Linked DNA regions of Homo sapiens. The protein of the gene in region 4 purifies or fractionates together with the protein of the main gene of each other region. This does not show direct contact. Each region holds a gene or a part of one and is shown on either strand. Other genes may lie near its edges.

Region 1 (4,684 bases), on a different chromosome or scaffold from region 4:
TGAAACCTGGGAGGTGGAGCTTGCAGTGAGCCGAGATAGCGCCACTGCACTCCAGCCTGGGCGACAGAGTGAGACTCCGTCTCCAAAAAAAAAGAGAACCCTTTCTCCCTTTACCCTTTTCCCTTGAAGACCCTTATTTCAGAGGGGTCCTGCCCTATATGGCAGGAGGGTTGGGGGTGAGGAGTCTACACAGAGAGGCCGAGAAGAACCTGAATAGACAGGTCTTGCTGGGTTTGCCCCTTCAGTCTATTCCCAGTAGATCATACTTTGTCCACTCACATTTCTACATGGCTGTCCATTCTTCATCAAACCTAAGCATAAGAATAGTTTTCTCTGGGTCTTTCATTTCTTTTCCTTTTTTTTTTTTTTTTTTTTTTTTTTGCAGTAGGGTCTTGCTCTGTTGCCCAGGCTGGAGTGCAGTGACACGACCTCAGCTCACTGCAGCCTCAACCTCCCAGGCTCAAGCAATCCTCCCACCTTAGCCTCCCAGGTAGCTGGAACTACAGATGTGTGCCACCATGCCTGGCTAATTTTTTATATTTTTTTATAGAGATGGGGTCTTGCTATGTTGCCTAAGCTGGTCTCGACCACCTGGGCTCAAGCAATCCTCTTGTCTTGACTTCCCAAAATGCTGACATTACAGGTGTGAGCCACTGCACCTGGCCTGGGTCTTCATTTCTGAAGGCTCTGATCACTCAGGAAATTACAAGTGTTTTAGGAGCTCTGTGTAAGGAACCAGACAAAGACCAACTATCTATTGGACAAAGACCATATATGTATTTCTCATCACATGCTGTGTTTTATGTTTCTCCTCCTCAGGCAACACAGTGCTTCTCCTCATACTGTGCATGCAGCACTCCTTCCCAGAGCCTGGCAGATTGTATCTTGACCTCATTCTGGCCATCTTGGCACTGGAACTCATCTGTTCCCTGATATGTCTCCTCATTTACACAGGTGAGAATTACAACGAGCCTGTTCTTATAGGAACTTCGAACTGCTTCCTTTCCTCCCAGTTTAAAGTATAGCCCATTAGCGACAAGGAAGTTCTCTGTGTATCTGAGTGGTGACCACATGCAGACTTCTTTAATTTCAAACCAACAGGAAGGTACAGCCACCACCAGTGAGACCCCATTCTTTTAAGATTGTGTCATTAATAAATTTTTGTTAATGCAAGTGAAACTTTTCCATTAAAACAAGACACAAACTTTTTGGGCTGGGAATGGTGGCTCAAGCCTGTAATCCCAGCTCTTTGGGAGGATGAGGCAGAAGGATCACTTGAGCTCTGGAATTCAAGACCAGCCTGGACAACATGATGAAACTCCATCTCTACAAAAAATACAAAAAATTAGCCAGGTATGGTGGTGCACAAATGTGGTCCCAGCCCCTCAGGAGGCTGACGTGGGAGGATCACTAGAGCCTGGGAGACAGAGGTTGCAGTGAGCCAAGATCACATGCCTGCACTCCAGCCTGGGTGACAGAGTAAGACCCTGTCTCCTAAAACAACAACAACAAAAACATCCACAAACTTTTGCTTCTCTGAAGGCAGCTGAAATGTCAGCTTGCATTTAAAATTAAAAATTAAGAAATAGGCCAGGCACAGTGGCTCATGTCTGTAATCCTAGCACTTTAGGAGGCTAGCACTTTAATAGAGATGGGGTTTCGTCATGTTGGCCAGGATGGTCTCTAACTCCTGACCTCAGGTGATCCGCCCGCCTTGGCCTCCCAAAGTGCTGGGATTACAGGCATGACCCACCGCACCCAGCCCCAAATTGTATATATTCATCTGCTTAATGAAGTTTTCATCCACATGTCCCACAGGCACCAACAAGATCAGAAGTGAACAGAACATAATTTTCTTCAAAATTTCCCTCCATCCTAACCGTCCTCTTCTAGCTCAGTTAACAATACCAGCCTGCATCCACTTGATAAATCAGAATCCTAGAAACGTAGGAGTCATCTACCTTCTTCCTTCTACCTCACTCCCCAAGAACTGGATAGGATTGGTGATCAGTCAGTCATCAGTCTTATTCAGTCTACCTGTCTTTCAGCTCTGTCTCTTTTCTTTGGTCCCTGCCACTGCCTTGGTTAGGTACTCATCATCTCTTGCATGGCTACATCCAGGAGACACATAACAGGTCTCTTTCCCTCTGTCCACTGATTCATATTTCTTATTCCTGCCAACATGATCTTGTTTATACTTAACTCTGATTGTTAACAGCTTCCCTGCCCAGAGTTTTCTAATAGCTGAAGGAAAAAAAATCTAACGTTTTCATGTGGCATAAAAGGCATTTTCTTTATTTTTTTTTTGAGTTGGAGTTTCACTCTCGTCACCCAGGCTGGAGTGCAATGGCGTGATCTCAGCTTACTGCAACCTCCGCCTCCTGGGTTTAAGCGATTCTCCTGCCTCAGCCTCCTGAGTGGCTGGGATTATAGGCGCCTACCACCACACCCAGCTAATTTTTGTGTTTTTAGTAAAGACAGCATCTCATCATGTTCGCCAGGCTGGTCTCAAACTCCGGATGTCAGGTCATCTATCCGCCTCGGCCTCCCAAAGTGCTGGGATTACAGACATGAGCCACCATGCCCAGCCTGAAAGGTTCTCCTTGAATGGCCTCTACCTAGCCTGCTCTTCAGGGATGATGGTGAGATCCTTTCAAAGACTGCCAGTTGCTCTGAGGATAAAATCTAAATGTCTTAGGCCGGGCCTGGTGACTCACGCCTGTAATCCCAGCACTTTGGGAGGCCTCAGCGGGTGGATCACTTGAGGCCAGGAGTTTGAGAACAGCCTGGCCAACATGGTGAAACACCGTCTCTACTGAAAATACAAAAAAAATTAGCTGGGTGTGGTGGTGCACGCCTGTAATCCCAGTCGGGAGGCTGAGGTGGGAGAATTGCTTGAACCTAGGAGGCAGAGACAGAGGTTGCAGTGAGCCAAGGTTGTGCCACTGCACTCCAGCCTGAGCGACAGAGCAAGACTCCGTCTCAAAAAAAAAAAAAAAAAAAGTGTAAATGCCTTGCATGACACACCAGCCACTCCTGATGCATTCTCTGCCTATCTTCCCAACCCACCCCTTGTCCATACACCCTCACACCCATACATACGTGTAGCTTCTCAAGACCATAGCATTTGTTCAGACTCCTCCTGCACCTGAAGCACCCTTCTTTATTCTCCTAGTCTGTGTGATTAATTCCTGGGCTCAAACTCTATCCTCTTTTCCCCTCTCTGATACCTCCTGTTGAGTTAGGCACTGCTTTCCAGGCCAAAAAGCAGCTTGACAACTCCTTGTGCAAGCCTCTTGCACAAGCTTCTATTGAAGGTACTTTCCATACTGTCTTAGAATGTAGGATTATTATCTGTATTTTCCCCTGGACCAGAGGAAGTCATGATTTCTGAATTAGATGGCTGGCTGGTTGCTCAACTTCTCTGGGCTTCACTGCGGGGTAATAGGAGCATCCACTTCATGCAGGTGTTTATGAGAACTGAATGAGGGCATCCATGTAAAACATTTAAACTGTGCCTCATGTGTTCTAAGTGCACAATAAATGTCAGCTATTATTGCTATTTCAATACTAATGTAATCCCTATATTCCCAGGGCTTAGAACAGGCCTGGCACATAGTAGAATTTGAAATACTCAAGGACGTTAATAAGAACGGCAAATTAGCATAATTTGAAAAAATGAAACTAGACTTGTCTTTCAGAATTCGATCTAATAATGACTTTATTATTTTAGTGAAAATCCGGAGATTTAATAAAGCTAAACCAGAGCCTGATATACTTGAAGAAGAAAAAATCTATGCTTACCCCAGCAATATTACCTCGGAGACTGGATTCAGGTAAGATTTAGGTGAGAATAAAATAATTGAGTTTTTTCCCCTAGAAAGCTAGAAACCATTCTGATGCTTGGAATTTATGATTGTGTATTTGTACTTTTACATTTGTTTGATTTGTTTATTTCCTTTCAGCTGTGGTGAAATCAAGTCTAAATCAGGATGTGTAAATGTATTAAATAGGCCATATATTTGATGCAAAAAATTAACCACTTAGCCAACCTATTTAACCTCTCAAGAGCTTTTGACATCATTAACTGGTTACTCCCTCCTTGAAGCACCTTTTTTTATAGGTGTCTTTTTTTTTTTTTTTTTTTTGAGATGGAGTTTTGCTCTTGTTGCCCAGGCTGGAGTGCAGTGGCATGATCTTGGCTCACCGTAGTCTCCACCTCCCAGTTTCAAGCGATTCTCCTGCCTCAGCCTCCCAGTAGCTGGGATTACAGGCATGCACCACCACGCTTGGCTAATTTTGTATTTTTAGTAGAGATGGGGTTTCTCCATGTTGGTCAGGCTGGTCTTGAACTCCTGACCTCAGGTGATCCGCCCGCCTCAGCCTCCCAAAGTGCTGGGATCACAGGCGTGAGCCACCTCGCCCGGCCTGTTATTTTCTTTTTAAGGGATAGAGTCTCTCTGTATTGCCCAGGCTGGCCTCAAACTCCTGGGCTCAAGCAATCCTCCCATTTCAGCCTCCCAAACAGCCAGCCCGGTCTGCCCACCCTTGTTTCTATCCAGTCTCTCCCTAAGTGACTTCCATGGTAATTAAAATATCATTCATATCTGTTGGAGATCTTGGGGCTAAAGTAGATGTAAAAAACTATACATGCCCAGCTAATTTTTGTATTTTTAGTAGCGAC
Region 2 (4,684 bases), on a different chromosome or scaffold from region 4:
GAGCCTAGTGGTGCAGCTTATGTCATCTTTCCTCCCGGCCCCTGTCCCCCTCCTTCTTTCAGCTTTGCTCACTCTTTGAGGTGGCCTCCCTTCTCTCTCTGCAATTGATCTGTCTCCACGCGCCAAGGGAGAGTGCCTCCGACGGCTCCAGCTCAGCCACCTGCTCAGAAAATAAACCTCTGGGTAGGCTTGCTTGGTCCACACGCCCACCCTTCTGACCAAACACGACTGCAGAGGGATGGACACCACATGGGGGCCGTGCGCAGCATGTGGCTGAGCTTGTATTTGGGATGTGACCCACAGCCCTATTGGCTCAGCATGCGAGAGAGCAGGGATGGTGCTCCCCAAGGAAGGACTGGTGGGCAGGACGGAGCAGCGCATGTCCACTAGGGTTGAAAGTGCTCTGCACGGCACCAGTTGCCTGGTACCCATTTCATAAACTGTGGCCACCATGATTGCTTCAGCTCAATAAGTGGTGGTTAGTATTAACAATTACTTTTTTCACTTATTAGTTGATTACTTATTTATTGAGGTGCTTTTGTATAAAAGATTCAAGCTTTCTGAAATCGAAGTTAAAATTTTGTAAACATATCCCACGCCATTGAACCTTTGTCAGTCATGTCAATAAATCACGCCCTTAGATTTAGGTTGAGCTCCCTCTACCCTATTGGCAACTTCTGCCCACTTGAACACCACTCCAAGGTCATCTGATGGCACATTAGTCATGGAGTTATTTATTTTTCCTCCAGATTATAAAGTCCTTGAGGGCATATGCTCTTGACTGGCTTAAGAGTACTGCATGCCTCTGTTTCCCATGAAAGCTAAAGCTAGGGTAGGCCCATTTGCTAAAATGAAGTATGGCTCAGTGTGGCGGTGCACACCTATAGTCCCAGCTGCTCAGGAGGCAAAGGTGGGAGGATCGCTTGAGCCCATGAGTTGGAAGCTGCAGTGAGCTATGATCGTACTGCTACACTCCAGCCTGGGTAACTGGGTGAGACCAAAACATGAAATGAAGTGTGAAAAATAAAGTATCTTATACCCTTTTAGACATGGAGAAGGTTGCTCTTGATTATACTAAATTCTGGATTTGCTTCATATGTATTTTTCAGGTAGCTTATTTAAAACTCGATGTACCTCTTGTGGAGTTGTGGCTGAGAATTACAAGAGTCCAATTTGTCCAGCTTTATCAGGAAAAGGGTAATTATACCACACTACAGAATAAGTATAGGTTGTTTTCTCCTTTAGGTTGAACATAAATGTGAGGAAATTGAACATTCATCAAAGATTCCCATGGATATTTATGAGAAATAAGACTAAATACAAGGCTGGGTGCAGTGGCTCATGCCTGTAATCCCAGCACTTTGGGGTTACAAGGTGGGGAGACTGCTTGAGTTCAGGAGTTCAAGACCAGCCTGGGCAACACAGTGAGAAACCTGTCCTACAAAAAAACAAAACAAAACAAAAAACCACAAAAATTAGCTGGGTGTGGTGGCACATGCCTGTAGTCCCAGCTACTAGGGAGGCTGAGGTGGGAGGGTTATTTGAGCCTGGGAAGTCAAGGCTGCAGTGAGCTGAGATCATGCCACTGCACTACAGCCTGGGTGACAGAGGGAGACCCTGTCTCAAAAAACAAACAAACAAACAAAAAAACTAAATATAGCCATGTGATAAAAGAAATATTTTGCTCACAACTTACAGTGTTAAGTGAAAACCACAGGGTCCTAAATTTGTACACACAATGAGTTCGTGTATCTGTATATAGTTAAAAGACCAGAAGAAAATACAACAAAATGTTAATAAGGAATATCAGGAGTGGAGGGATTATGGGTAATTTTTAATTTCTTCTTTATATCTTTCTGAATTTTCCTATATTTCTATTATGAACATGTACTATTATTACAATGAGGAAAAAATTTGAGGGTAGACACAATATTGAGAAAAATTCCACTCAGCCTTTTAAAAACAGTATAAATTGTATAAGGACTATATAATGTCATTGCAGAGGATACAAATGATGATGATGATGATGTATAAAGGTAAACATGAAGTTCCCCCTTGGCACACCCAGCCACTCCAGCCCTCCCCACACATGCATTCCCTCACTGGCAGTACAACCACTGGTGATTTTTTTTTTTCTGAGACAGGTTCTTGCTCTGTTTCCCAGGCTGGAGTACAGTGGCACAATCACACCTTACTGCAGCCTCCAACTCCTGGGCTCGAGCAATCCTCCTGCCTCAGCCTCCCAAGTAGCTAGGACTATAGGCACACATCACCACACTCAGCTAATTTTTGTATTTCTGGTAGAAATGCAGTCTTACTGTATTGCCGAGGGTTGTCTTGAACTTCTGGCCTCAAGCAGTCCTCCCACTTTGGCCTCACCAAATGCTGGGATTACAGGCATGAGCCACTGTGCCCAGCACCACTGGTAATTAATGGCTTGGGGTCCTTCCTTCTAATGCCCTTCCAAGTGAGCATGTATTAATTAGGAGTTTTATACCACATACTGCCAGGCAAATATACAAACTGAGTTATGTTGTTTCTTTATTTTTTATTATGCCAATAACAATCTTTCTTTTCTAATATTATTTACTTCAGTGCTCCAGAACCTGGAACTCAAGATGCCAGCATCCCAGTTGAGAAACTTCCCCGGTAGGTAGAAAACTCTGATTTGTACTGGTGTTCCAGGTTACCAAAACAAAAAAAAAAACAGACATCAAAACCTAAACATGTATTTGGCAAGACGCCTCTTAAATCAAATGCACAAATGTAAAAACCAGGCTTGATCTCTGAGACCAAAAGTGAAAGGACAAAGGATGAACCAAATTAGGATGAAAAGAATGATTTTTTTCCAACCTCTTTTTGCTTTGTGTTGTGGTAGGATCATTTGAGGTCGGGAAAGTTTCTGAAGCTGTCGTGCGACAGGTGGTTACCCAGTGTACAGAAAGCATAGGGGCTGACCTGTAACTGGTCAAATAACATCACTGGCATTATTAATCCAGGGTTAGGGAGGCAATGAAAGGACCTGAATAGGAGAGGTTACAGGACCAAACAGAATGTTCATAGATTAAAAAAAAAAAAAAAAAAAAGGAAGATTTTTATGCCAATTTTTCAAAACCAGGCATTAAAACAGCACTTCTATAACCTGTAATTGGATTAGAAGTTTTTTTGTTGTGTTTATTTTATTTTATTTTTTTTTGAGATGGAATCTCACTCTGTCACCCAGGCTGGAGTGCAATGGTACGATCTTGGCTCACTGCAACCTCCACCTCCTGGGTTGAAGTGATTCTTCTGCCTCAGCCTCCCGAGTAGCTGGGATTATAGGCGCCCGCCACCACGCCTGGCTATTTTTTGTGTTTTTAGCAGGGATGAGGTTTCGCCATGTTGGCCAGGCTGGTCTCGAGCTCTTGACCTCAGATGATCCACCCGCCTCAGCCTCCCAACATGCTGGGATTACAGGCGTGAACCACTGCACCCGGCTGGATTAGAGTGTTTTTAAGGTAAAATAAAACAGCACTTCTAAAAGTGTTTCATAGAACATTAATTTAATGTTACGTTGAGACATTACTTGAAAAAAACATGTTAGGCACTCAAATAAATATGGAAATGTTAGACTAAACAAAGTTAAAATATGTTTGCTTTACTGCAGGACTTTTTAGAGCATTTAATCCACATTGCTGCCTTCTAAAAAGTGGTTGTAATACGTATGTTAATGCTTTACTGGCTTATTTAACCACAGAACCTTTTAAATTTTCCTCATGAGGGTTTTAATTGCTAAATATTAAAAGTTTTCTTCTGAAGGAATAGGTAGACCTGGAGGATTCCTGTGATGCAGGAGATTACTATGATGAAAATGGTGTTTGGGGGATGGTTTTAGGAGGTGTATAGAAGGTAACCCTGAGGTAGGAGGGAGTGAAAGAAGAGAGATTTTTAGTAATGGACACAGGAAAGCTGGCTACATACTGGGCCAGAGAGACATGAACCTGAGAGAACATGAAAGGAGGTCATTGATGAAATTAGGGGATGCTTGGGGTGGGAGGCAAATCTGAGTCCAGTATGTCTCCCAGGTCTGGGTGGCTGTGAGCACAAATGTGAGCATAATGAATGAACTGGGAAAGCTTAGCTGAAACAATGTGTCAGCACATCAAGTACATACAGACAAGATAAAAAATAAGGACAGTTCTGCAGGGCGCGGTGGCTCATGCCTGTAATCCCAGCACTTTGGGAGGCCGAGGAGGGCAGATCACCTGAGGTCAGCAGTTTGAGACCAGCCCGGCGAATGTGGTGAAACATGTCTCTACTAAGAATACGAAAATTAGCTGGGTGTGGTCACACATGACTGTAGTCCCAGCTGCTCGGGAGGCTGAGGCAGAATTGCTTGAACCTGGGAGGCAGAGGTTGCAGTGAGCGGAGACCATGGCATTGCACTTCCGCCTGGGCAGCAGAGTGAGACTCCGTCTCAAAAAAAAAAAAAAAAAAAAAGACCATTAAACCTGATGCTTCATAAGCAAGGCAAGTTTATATAGGCTGGGAGGGAGGGTGTAGGGAATAAGAGGCATCAGAGGTGACCCATCTGGATGTACTAGGTTTGGGGCAGCCCCTGGCCTCCCTCCGATCCAGCTGGGCAGACTTGGCTCGGGGTTGGCTTAAGGATCCCATTCTTCCAGGTGTGAAGAGGCAGGCTGCG
Region 3 (4,684 bases), on a different chromosome or scaffold from region 4:
ATATACCTCAGACACAAAGATGGTTCAACATACAAAAATCAAAACTGAGTATGCCACATTAATAGAACAAAGGATTAAAATCACATGATCATCTCAATAGATGCAGAAAAAGCATTTGACAAAATTAAATATCCTTTCATGATAAAACCATTCAATAAAGAGGAATAGAAGGAAATTATCTCAACATATTAAAGGCCATACATGGAAACCCTTAGCTAATATCATACTCAATGGTGACAAACTGAAAGATTTTCCTGGCCAGGCATGGTGGCTCACACTTATAATCCCAGCACTTTGGGAGGCCGAGGTGGGTGGATCACGTGAGGTCAGGAGTTCGAGACCAGCCTGGCCAACATGGTGAAACCCCATCTCTACTAACAATACAAAAAAATTAGCCAGGTGTGGTGGCACACACCTGTAATCCCATCTACTCAGGAAGCTGAGACATGTGAATCGCTTGAGCCCAGGAGGTGGAGGTTGTATTGAGCAGAGATCACACCACTGCACTCCAGCCTGGGCGACAGAGTGAGACTCTGTCTCAAGGAAAAAAAAAAAAAAAAAAGAGAGATTTTCCTCTAAGATCAGGAAGAAGGCCAGGGTGGCTATTTTTCCCATCTCTATCTCTCATAGCACTAGACATCCTAGCCAAAGCAATTAGATAAGAAAAAGAAATAAAAAACATCCAAATCAGAAAGAAGTAAATTTATCTCTCTTAGCAAGTGACATAATCTTATACATAGAAAGCCCTAAAGATTTCACCAAAAAAATCTTGTTATTTGGCTGGGTGTGGTGGCTCATGCTTGTAATCCGTGCTTTAGGAGGCCAAGGCAGGAGGATAACTTGAGCCCAGGAGTTTGAGACCAGCCTGGGCAACATAGCAAGGCCCCTATCTCTACTAAAAAGAATCTTGTTAGAATAAACAAATTCAGCTAAGTTGGAAGATATAAAATCAATATACAAAAATCAGTTACATTTCTATACACTAACAACAATCTGAAAAGGAGGTTAAGAAAATAATCCCATTTATAATAGCATTAGAAAGATTTAGATACTTAGGAATAAACTTAACCAGGGAGGTGAAAGACTTATACACTGAAAACTACAAAAAAAAAAAAAAAAGCTGAATGAAATAAAAGACACAAATAAATAGAAAGACATCTCATGTTCGTGAATTGGAAGACTTAATATTACTCAAATTACTATACCACCGAAGGCAATACAGCAATACAAAATCCCAATAGCATTTTTTGCAGAAATAGAAGACATAATCCTAATATCCATATGGAACCACAAAGGCCTCACACTGACTTTAAAACATATGACAAAACTATAGTAATCAAAACAGTATAGTACTAGCATAATAATAGACATAAATGGACCAGTGGAACAAAATAGAGAACCAGAAATAAAGCCACTGATGTATGATCCAACAATCTTCTACAAGGGTGCCAGACTACACAATGGAGAAATGACAATCTCTTCAATAAATGGTGCTAGGAAAACTGGATTTCCACATGCAACAGAATCAAACTGGACCTTTATCTTATACCGTACACAAAAATCAACTCCAAATGGATTAAAGACTTAAATGTAAGACCTGAAACTATATAACTTCTTGAAGAAAACATAGAAGAAAAGCTTCTTGACGTTGATATGGGCAATAATTTCTTGGACATGACACCAAAAGCATAGGCAACAAAAGCAAAAACAGAAAAGTGGGACTACATCAAACTAAAAAGCATATGTGCAGTAAAAAAAAACAGTGAATACAGTGAAAAAGTAACCTACAGAATGGGAGAAAATATTTGCAAACCATATATCTGACAAGGGGTTAATATGCAAAATGCATAAGAAACCCCCACAATTCAATAACAAAATAAATAACCCAACTTAAAAATCAGCAAAGAACTTGAATAGCACTTCTCCAAAGAAGATATACAAATGGCCAACAGATAAGGTATTATATATATGCTGTATACATGCTATATATACACACAGATGTATATGTATATAAATGGTATATGAAAAGATGCTCAACATCAGTAATCATCAGGGAAACACAAATAAAAACACAGTGAGCTATAAGGCAAATAAGTGTTAAGGATAGGCAGAAACTGGAATCCTACTATACTATTGGAAAGAATGTAAAATGGTACAGTCAATATGAAAACAGTATGGAGGTTCCTCAAAAAATAAAAAGTTGAACTACCATATTATCTATCAATCCCACTTCTAGGTATTTGTCTAACAGAATTAAAAGTAGAGTCTCAAAGAAGTACTTGCATTGCCATGTTCATTGATGAATTATTCACAATAGCCAAGAGGTGGAAACAATCTAAAAGCCCATCAACATGACTGGATAAAGAAAATATATGTATACATACAATGAAATTCTACTCAGCCTTAAAAAATGAAGGAAGTACTGTCATGTTACAATATGGATGAAACTTGAAGATATTATGCTAGGTGAAATAAGCCAGTCACAGGACAAAAATTGCAGGATTCAACTTATATGAGGTATCTGTTAATCACACTGATGGAGGAAGAAAGTAAAATGGTGGTTGCCAGGGATATGGAGCAGAGGAAAACGGGGGCCTGCTGTGCAATGGCTATAGAGTTTCAGTCATACAAGATGAAGAAGTTCTAGAGATTTGCTGTATAAGAATGCACATATAGTTGTACGGTATACTTAAAAATATGTTAACAGATTTCACGTTATATATTTTTTACCACAATTTTAACAAGGGGATGGGAGGCATGAAATTTGTATGGCATGACTTGTCCACGTTCAAATGCCAGCCACCTTCCAGGGATCAACGTTTCCATTTGCAAGAACTCAGATCTTTATGAAATTATCTTTATGGAACTGGACCGACAACAAGCTTTCCTGTATGGTTTTCAAATGCCACTTTCCACTTCTGAGAAATCAGAATGACATTTATCCATCTTTAATCTTTTACTACCTTTCATTAAGATTTTCCAGAAATTATTTACAGTAGTTTAGAAAATTCAACAGCAAGTTCTCTTAGTATTTGGAGAAGAAACTGATGTGGGACAGAAGATTTTAAATAAATGGTTAGATATTTACCTGCTCTCTTACATGCTACTACTCACCTATCTCAATTTCCCTATGACCAATGTTTCTTTGTACCCTTTCCAAATTAATATGCATTCTCTCATAGAGAATGTTCTAAAACAAACTAAAAAAAATTGAACAGGTGGCTCACGCCTATAATCCCAGCACTTTGGGAGGCCAAGGCATGCAGATCACTTGAGGCCAGGAGTTTGAGACCAGCCTGGCCAACATAGTGAAACTCCATCTCTACTAAAAATACAAAAAACATTAGCTGGGCGAGGTGGTGGGTGCCTGTAATTCCAGCTACTCGCGAGGCTGAGGCAGGAGAATCGCTTGAACCCCGGTTGCGAACGTTGCAGTGAGTCGAGATCAGCCATTGCACTCCAGCCTGGGGAACAAGAGCGAAACTGTGTCTCACAAAAAAAAAAAAAAAAAAAAAGTTGAACAATTTTACTTTCTCATAACTGCTCATATTATACCAAACAGCAGGCCCAAGCTTTTAACAGTACAATTAAAATAATCAAACATATGATTCTTACAAGTAGCAATGATTTATATAATTTTTTAAAATATAGCTATTAAAATTCTAATTTCATTGCTTACTTTTAAATACGCAGCTGCCTCTTGAACAGAAAGCGTTCTTTGACTAGAACTGCCACATTCATGATCTCCTGGAAAGATTAGCATATTATTAATTTTGAATCAGTACTCTCTTAAACAGAAGAAAACAAACATAATTAATTCAAATATTTTATACATTATACAATTACAGGTTATATTATTATAATCAGTAAAGAAAGAACATGAACAATATTATTTATAATTTCTAGAAGAAATTCCAGTAAGAATATAAACAAAGAAATTCCAGTAAGAATATAAACAAACAACTACCATTACATTAACCACAACTTTTAAATGCATTTCAGTCCAAACAAGAACTTATCTTCCTCTTATATTCCCAACTAAACTGTAAGCTGGTATAGGAACTATGTCACACTGATGCCTATCCACAGATCTTGGCACACAAGACGCCCTCCAGAAATATGTATTATTCCTAAAAGGGAAAAAATTCAGCATATTCATTGTGCTAACTTAACTTACACATCTATTCTTAAAGCTAATCATTTAAGGGTTCAAATAAGTTTGAATTTATTAATGAATTAAAGTATGTGCATTTTCAGAGTATAACTAATCCTATCTTTAGCAAGGGGTGTGCATGCCTTAAAAACTGTTATAACATAACCAGGTGTGGTAGTATGCATCTGTTGTCCCAATTATTCGGGAAGCAGAGGCGAGAAGACAGCTTGACTCCATAAATTTGAAGCTGCAGTGAGCTGTGATCACCCTACTTCACTCCAGCCTGAGTGACAGAAAAGATCCTGTCTCAAAAAAATCTTAAAAAACAAAAATTGTTATAACAGACCAACAGGGAAATCAGGTACAAGTTTCCACCTATGATCTGGTTTCTACAAAGGGATGTGCTCATATAAATCTTTGGAAAACTACATTTATCTTTTCTTTTAATTGTTGATAAGAAGCGAATTCAGGGCTTTTTCTTTAGACTATAAGTGGTTATTAGAAATAAATTATCCTCATATTGAACTCCAA
Region 4 (4,135 bases):
TGAGGACTTGGTGGGCAGGCAGCTGACTCCTGAGATAAAAGTGGGGGAAGGGGAAGGGTTGCCTGAGTGTGCTCCCCAGGCCTTGGCAGCTAGATGCACTCTCCTCCACCAGCAGTTCTTCCCTTCACCCCACCCCAACACAAGAGCGTTGTGTGCTGAGCCCGCAGTAGAGAGGAGAGGCAGCCAGAGGCAGGGTAATGGGGACGGGAAATAAAGTGAGGCACAGTGGATGCTCTTCCAGGCCTGGGACAGGGAGGGCTACCGTCGGGGAGGACGCCTTGGTCCTCACTAGGATGAGGAGCAGCAGGCAGACAGACAAACAGGAAAGTGTTGGCAGCCACAAGCAGCAAAGCTATATGCAGACAGGAGGGCGTATGTCAGAGTCCCTCTCGCCATCCCCCCAACCACCCCTGCTTTCTTCCTCTTCTGTTAAAGGAAATTCCCACCAGTAGAGTCACCACGAACAGAGAGGAAGCATTTTTCTTCAAAGATCCATGTGGGCATGGCTGGATGTCCCCTGGGCAGGGATGGTGAGCCAGGTGTGGGAGGCTCACCTAGGTCCTCTCCATGACCTTGGCATGGTGGGGTGGGTGGGGGTGTATTTTCCTGTCCCACTGGCACATCGGCAAGGAGGAAGGAGCTCCTCAGATCCTCTCTCATTAGCACTTGCACTGTTGCATTAGTTAGAAAGCTGACTAGCTAATTGATACCTTTGCAGGCTCAGGGAATCTTACACAGTACAGAGGGGAGAAGTTGGGGAATCTGGTGTGGCTGCGGGATGGAAGGGCCAGCCTCAGGGAGGAGCATCTCCTGGAGGCCAGGCCTCCCCCAGAGCTGCCATAAACCCCTCAGTTGCTGAACAGATCACCCTGTATTGATGGTCTGATTGCTCATGTCTTCCCCCTTGTGACTGTGAACACCTTGAGGGCAGGGGCTGAGGCTTATCCGTGTTTGTGCGCCCAGCATCCAACACAGAGGAGGTCTCTGCATCAATGAGCAATATACATTTCTTTTACCAATTGCCCCAGAAAGATGCTAAAGACACAGCCATGCCCAGTCACCTACAACTCCTACAGTGTCTACATCCTTTCCTGAGTCTTCTCCCTGGAGGTGAGGGGGCCAGCAGCCTCCACAGTCTCAGTAAGAAACCAGCCAAGCTGTGCTTGTGTGTGGGTTCCAGGGCCCATTCTCCAACCAGCCATCCCATGGTCCTGGACATGGTATGGTCCAGCATGATCTATGTGGTTGGCATGGGCCTGGCGAGCTCCGGGTCACCGGGTCCACATATGGTCTTCTAGCATGGGCCTTGACTTTGGGGTACCTGGGAGTGTGAAGCAGTTAGGAGTTTGAGGTGCCCAGCTTGGTGACAGTGATATTTAAGGAAGGAAAGAAAAATTACCAACATGGAGAACTGGAAGAAGCGTGCCCCTGGCCCCGTGGCCACCTGTTTTCCTCAATCTGCTCTCCAGTGGCTTTTCTTTCCTTTTGGACTTCTGTTTCTGGCTGTGTCTCTCTTTCTCCGAGATCCTCTGTTTCTCCCTGGCATCTCTCTCTGTGTCCCTGTTTCTCCATATCCATTTCCTCCCCTCCTCTGTTCCTCTCTCCTTCCTCCACCCACCTCCAGCTCTCTATTGCTATCCCCACACTTCCTGCTGTCGGACACTTACCTGCATAGTATCTGACCCTGGGCATGGGCCCCTGCCCGCCTCCCCCCGCGGTCGTCGTCGGCAGCAGCAGCTGAAGCAGTTGGAAGAGGAAAAGGCCCAGGAGGCTCCAGGGGTCCAGGCCCAGGGCTGGGAGGGCCATGCTCAGCCACAGACTGTCACCAGGGAGCTCTGGGGAAACAGGCACCCGGGCACTTTCTGGGTGAGCAGTTCTTACCACATCCCCCCGAGGACCAATAGGAGAGCCCCAGGCAGCAGAAGCGTGTGTATTGGTGGCAGGGGTGGGGCATTGGGGCAGAGAAGGTTCCCTATCTGGAAGGGCCCTAAGACGGTCTCACTTTCATCATCCTTCCAGGCCTCAGCCTGTCACCTCACTGTCCCCTATGGGTAGGAGCCCAGGTCTCCCCTATCCTGCTTCTTCTGTTGTCTTCTCACCAACAGCTCTGGTTTGCCTTTTTTTGCCTTACTCTCAGGAAGTCTTTCCTGTCTTTCCTCCTTTGCCTTCCCTCTTCTCATAGCCCAAGCCCAAACCGTTGCCTGGCTCTGGGCAGGGAACATTTTGGGGAGCAGGTTCCTGTACCCAAAATATAAATTCCTCAGACCTTACTCTCCTGTCACTTTCAGATCTGTTGACACCTGTGCCTCATACTCAGCTCTGACCCAGGTAGGCAGACTGGGTTTGAGTCTGCCTGCTCTAACCTCTCCCCCAGCCCCAGCTGGGTTCAGGGTCTTTGAGGCTCAGGCCTGCCTGGCCTGATACTTCCAGGGAGGCAATGAGGGTCCATCCCACCAGGTTGGTTATCAGCATTTCCCGGGGAGCTGCCTGGGCAGGGGTGGCTGGCCGGCTCCCAGCCTCTGCAGCTCCCCGGCCCCCTTGTCTCTTGCTCCTGTGTCTGCCTCCCTGGGCCTCTACATAATCTTCCCCAAGACCACCCACCCCAAGCCACCCATCTCACCTCACATACCCTTGAACCAGCCACAGTGGGAAACTCGGTGTCTGGATTCTAGGGCGGGGGTGCCATTCAGGAGAAAGAAGAAGGGGGGTTCCCAGGCCCCAGAGGCAGGGGACAGAAGGCTCAGCCTGGCTGGAACGGGAGTGCGGCCCTCCAGGTGCCCATCATGCCAAAGCCAGCACTGGGAGCTCTAGGCCAGGGAAACCGGAATTTCCACCTCTCGAGTTGTGACAGATCCTGGCTTGGGCGGAAGTTGGTGGATTGGGAGGGAATAAAAAGACGTTCACCCACCTCACAAGAGACACACCTCTCTCTCCCTCCTCTGCTCGGTCCAACCAGAAAGTTTAAGAGGCCCTTCTAGGTCATTTCAGCGATTCCCCTGCCTCTCCATCATGTCACAGCCAGTATAACCAGCCTAGCAGTGGTTTCTTCTCTTGCTTAAGATTTCCCAGATAGGGGACATGACATATTCTTCTTTTCACTTACCCACAAGGTGGGGTCTCTCTACTCCTACCTACTGGGAAGTCCCTGCAGTGGTCTAACCTTTAAACCTCCCACTCTCAGCTGGGCCACAGTCTTTAAAAAAATAAAATAAAATAATTGTATTAGGCTCTTATCCATGATTTTGCTGAGGAAGTCCCCCTTGCAGTCTAATCTCCATCACTCTTTGACATCAGGCCAATAGGAAGCCCAGAAATCAGGCCAGTAGAAAGCCCAGAACATTTCCCATCTGAACTCGTGCTCACTGGACCACACTTTGGAGGCACCCAACCCCCAAAGGTGGCTGCTCACCCCTCCCTAAAGGCTCCAGGGGGAGCCTCATAACGCGGGGTTAATGAGGCATCCAGCGCCAAGAACTCTGTGGCCTACAAAGTGGGTAGGTTCCTGCCCACTCGACATGGTCAGCTGACTGCAGGTTAAAGAGCACAGACATCCCAGGGCTAATCCAACTCTAATAAATAATCCACTTCCATCTGACATGCACATTCCTCCCTGGCAGGAAGTCCTTCCTGTAGTGTAACTTCCATCCCTCCTGCTACAGCACCAGCCAACATGGGGGATGTTACAGCTCAGGCTACTCCTTATAATTCCTCATCTGAGGTACTCAGCCTTCTTTCATCTCTCTCAGTTTCCCCGGGGGTTGGTCTCAGACATATCCTGCCTGACAATCGTTTCTGTCAAGACTTGCCTAGGACTCCCCCAGACTCTCCCAGAGGCTGGTTGCCAGGTCCCTTCCAGTTTCTTAGAATCAAGAGAAACTCCCATTTATCCAGACCCTACCTTCTGTGTCTCCCCAACCCCCAGCTCAGATTTGGGAAGCCAGTCTGCCCCTGGGCCTCTCTGCTTAAACAGATTGGCTCATTTGGGTCACTGGGAAGAGTTCTGATACGGGGAGGCTGGGGGAGTTCCAGCCCTACACTCCCAGCCTGATGTCCTATTCCCACCTTTCTGGAAGTCATAGACTCCATGCCCTGCCCCCAGTTCTTCCTCCAGACATCCAGAATTCTCCCAACTCCG

Evidence for each region.
Region 1: the proteins of SEMA4A (region 4) and TMEM192 purify together in Homo sapiens (affinity purification with mass spectrometry; one large-scale study listed by BioGRID and IntAct). This does not show direct contact.
Region 2: the proteins of SEMA4A (region 4) and SIRT5 purify together in Homo sapiens (affinity purification with mass spectrometry; one large-scale study listed by BioGRID and IntAct). This does not show direct contact.
Region 3: the proteins of SEMA4A (region 4) and LEMD3 purify together in Homo sapiens (affinity purification with mass spectrometry; one large-scale study listed by BioGRID and IntAct). This does not show direct contact.

What each region holds. Positions count from the first base shown.
Region 1 is NC_000004.12:165,084,738-165,089,421, reverse strand, and holds part of TMEM192 (transmembrane protein 192), read left to right. Parts: intron 1-819; coding exon 820-954; intron 955-3,733; coding exon 3,734-3,836; intron 3,837-4,684.
Region 2 is NC_000006.12:13,594,368-13,599,051, forward strand, and holds part of SIRT5 (NAD-dependent protein deacylase sirtuin-5, mitochondrial), read left to right. Parts: intron 1-1,109; coding exon 1,110-1,197; intron 1,198-2,595; coding exon 2,596-2,649; intron 2,650-3,360; exon of another isoform or gene 3,361-3,497; intron 3,498-4,662; exon of another isoform or gene 4,663-4,664; coding exon 4,665-4,684. UniProt on the Homo sapiens protein: NAD-dependent lysine demalonylase, desuccinylase and deglutarylase that specifically removes malonyl, succinyl and glutaryl groups on target proteins.
Region 3 is NC_000012.12:65,217,615-65,222,298, reverse strand, and holds part of LEMD3 (inner nuclear membrane protein Man1), read right to left. Parts: intron 3,748-4,684; coding exon 3,680-3,747; intron 1-3,679.
Region 4 is NC_000001.11:156,152,250-156,156,384, reverse strand, and holds the start of SEMA4A (semaphorin-4A isoform 1 precursor), read right to left. Parts: upstream 2,801-4,135; 5' UTR 2,621-2,800; intron 1,838-2,620; exon of another isoform or gene 1,836-1,837; 5' UTR 1,807-1,835; coding exon 1,668-1,806; intron 1-1,667. UniProt on the Homo sapiens protein: Cell surface receptor for PLXNB1, PLXNB2, PLXNB3 and PLXND1 that plays an important role in cell-cell signaling. Regulates glutamatergic and GABAergic synapse development.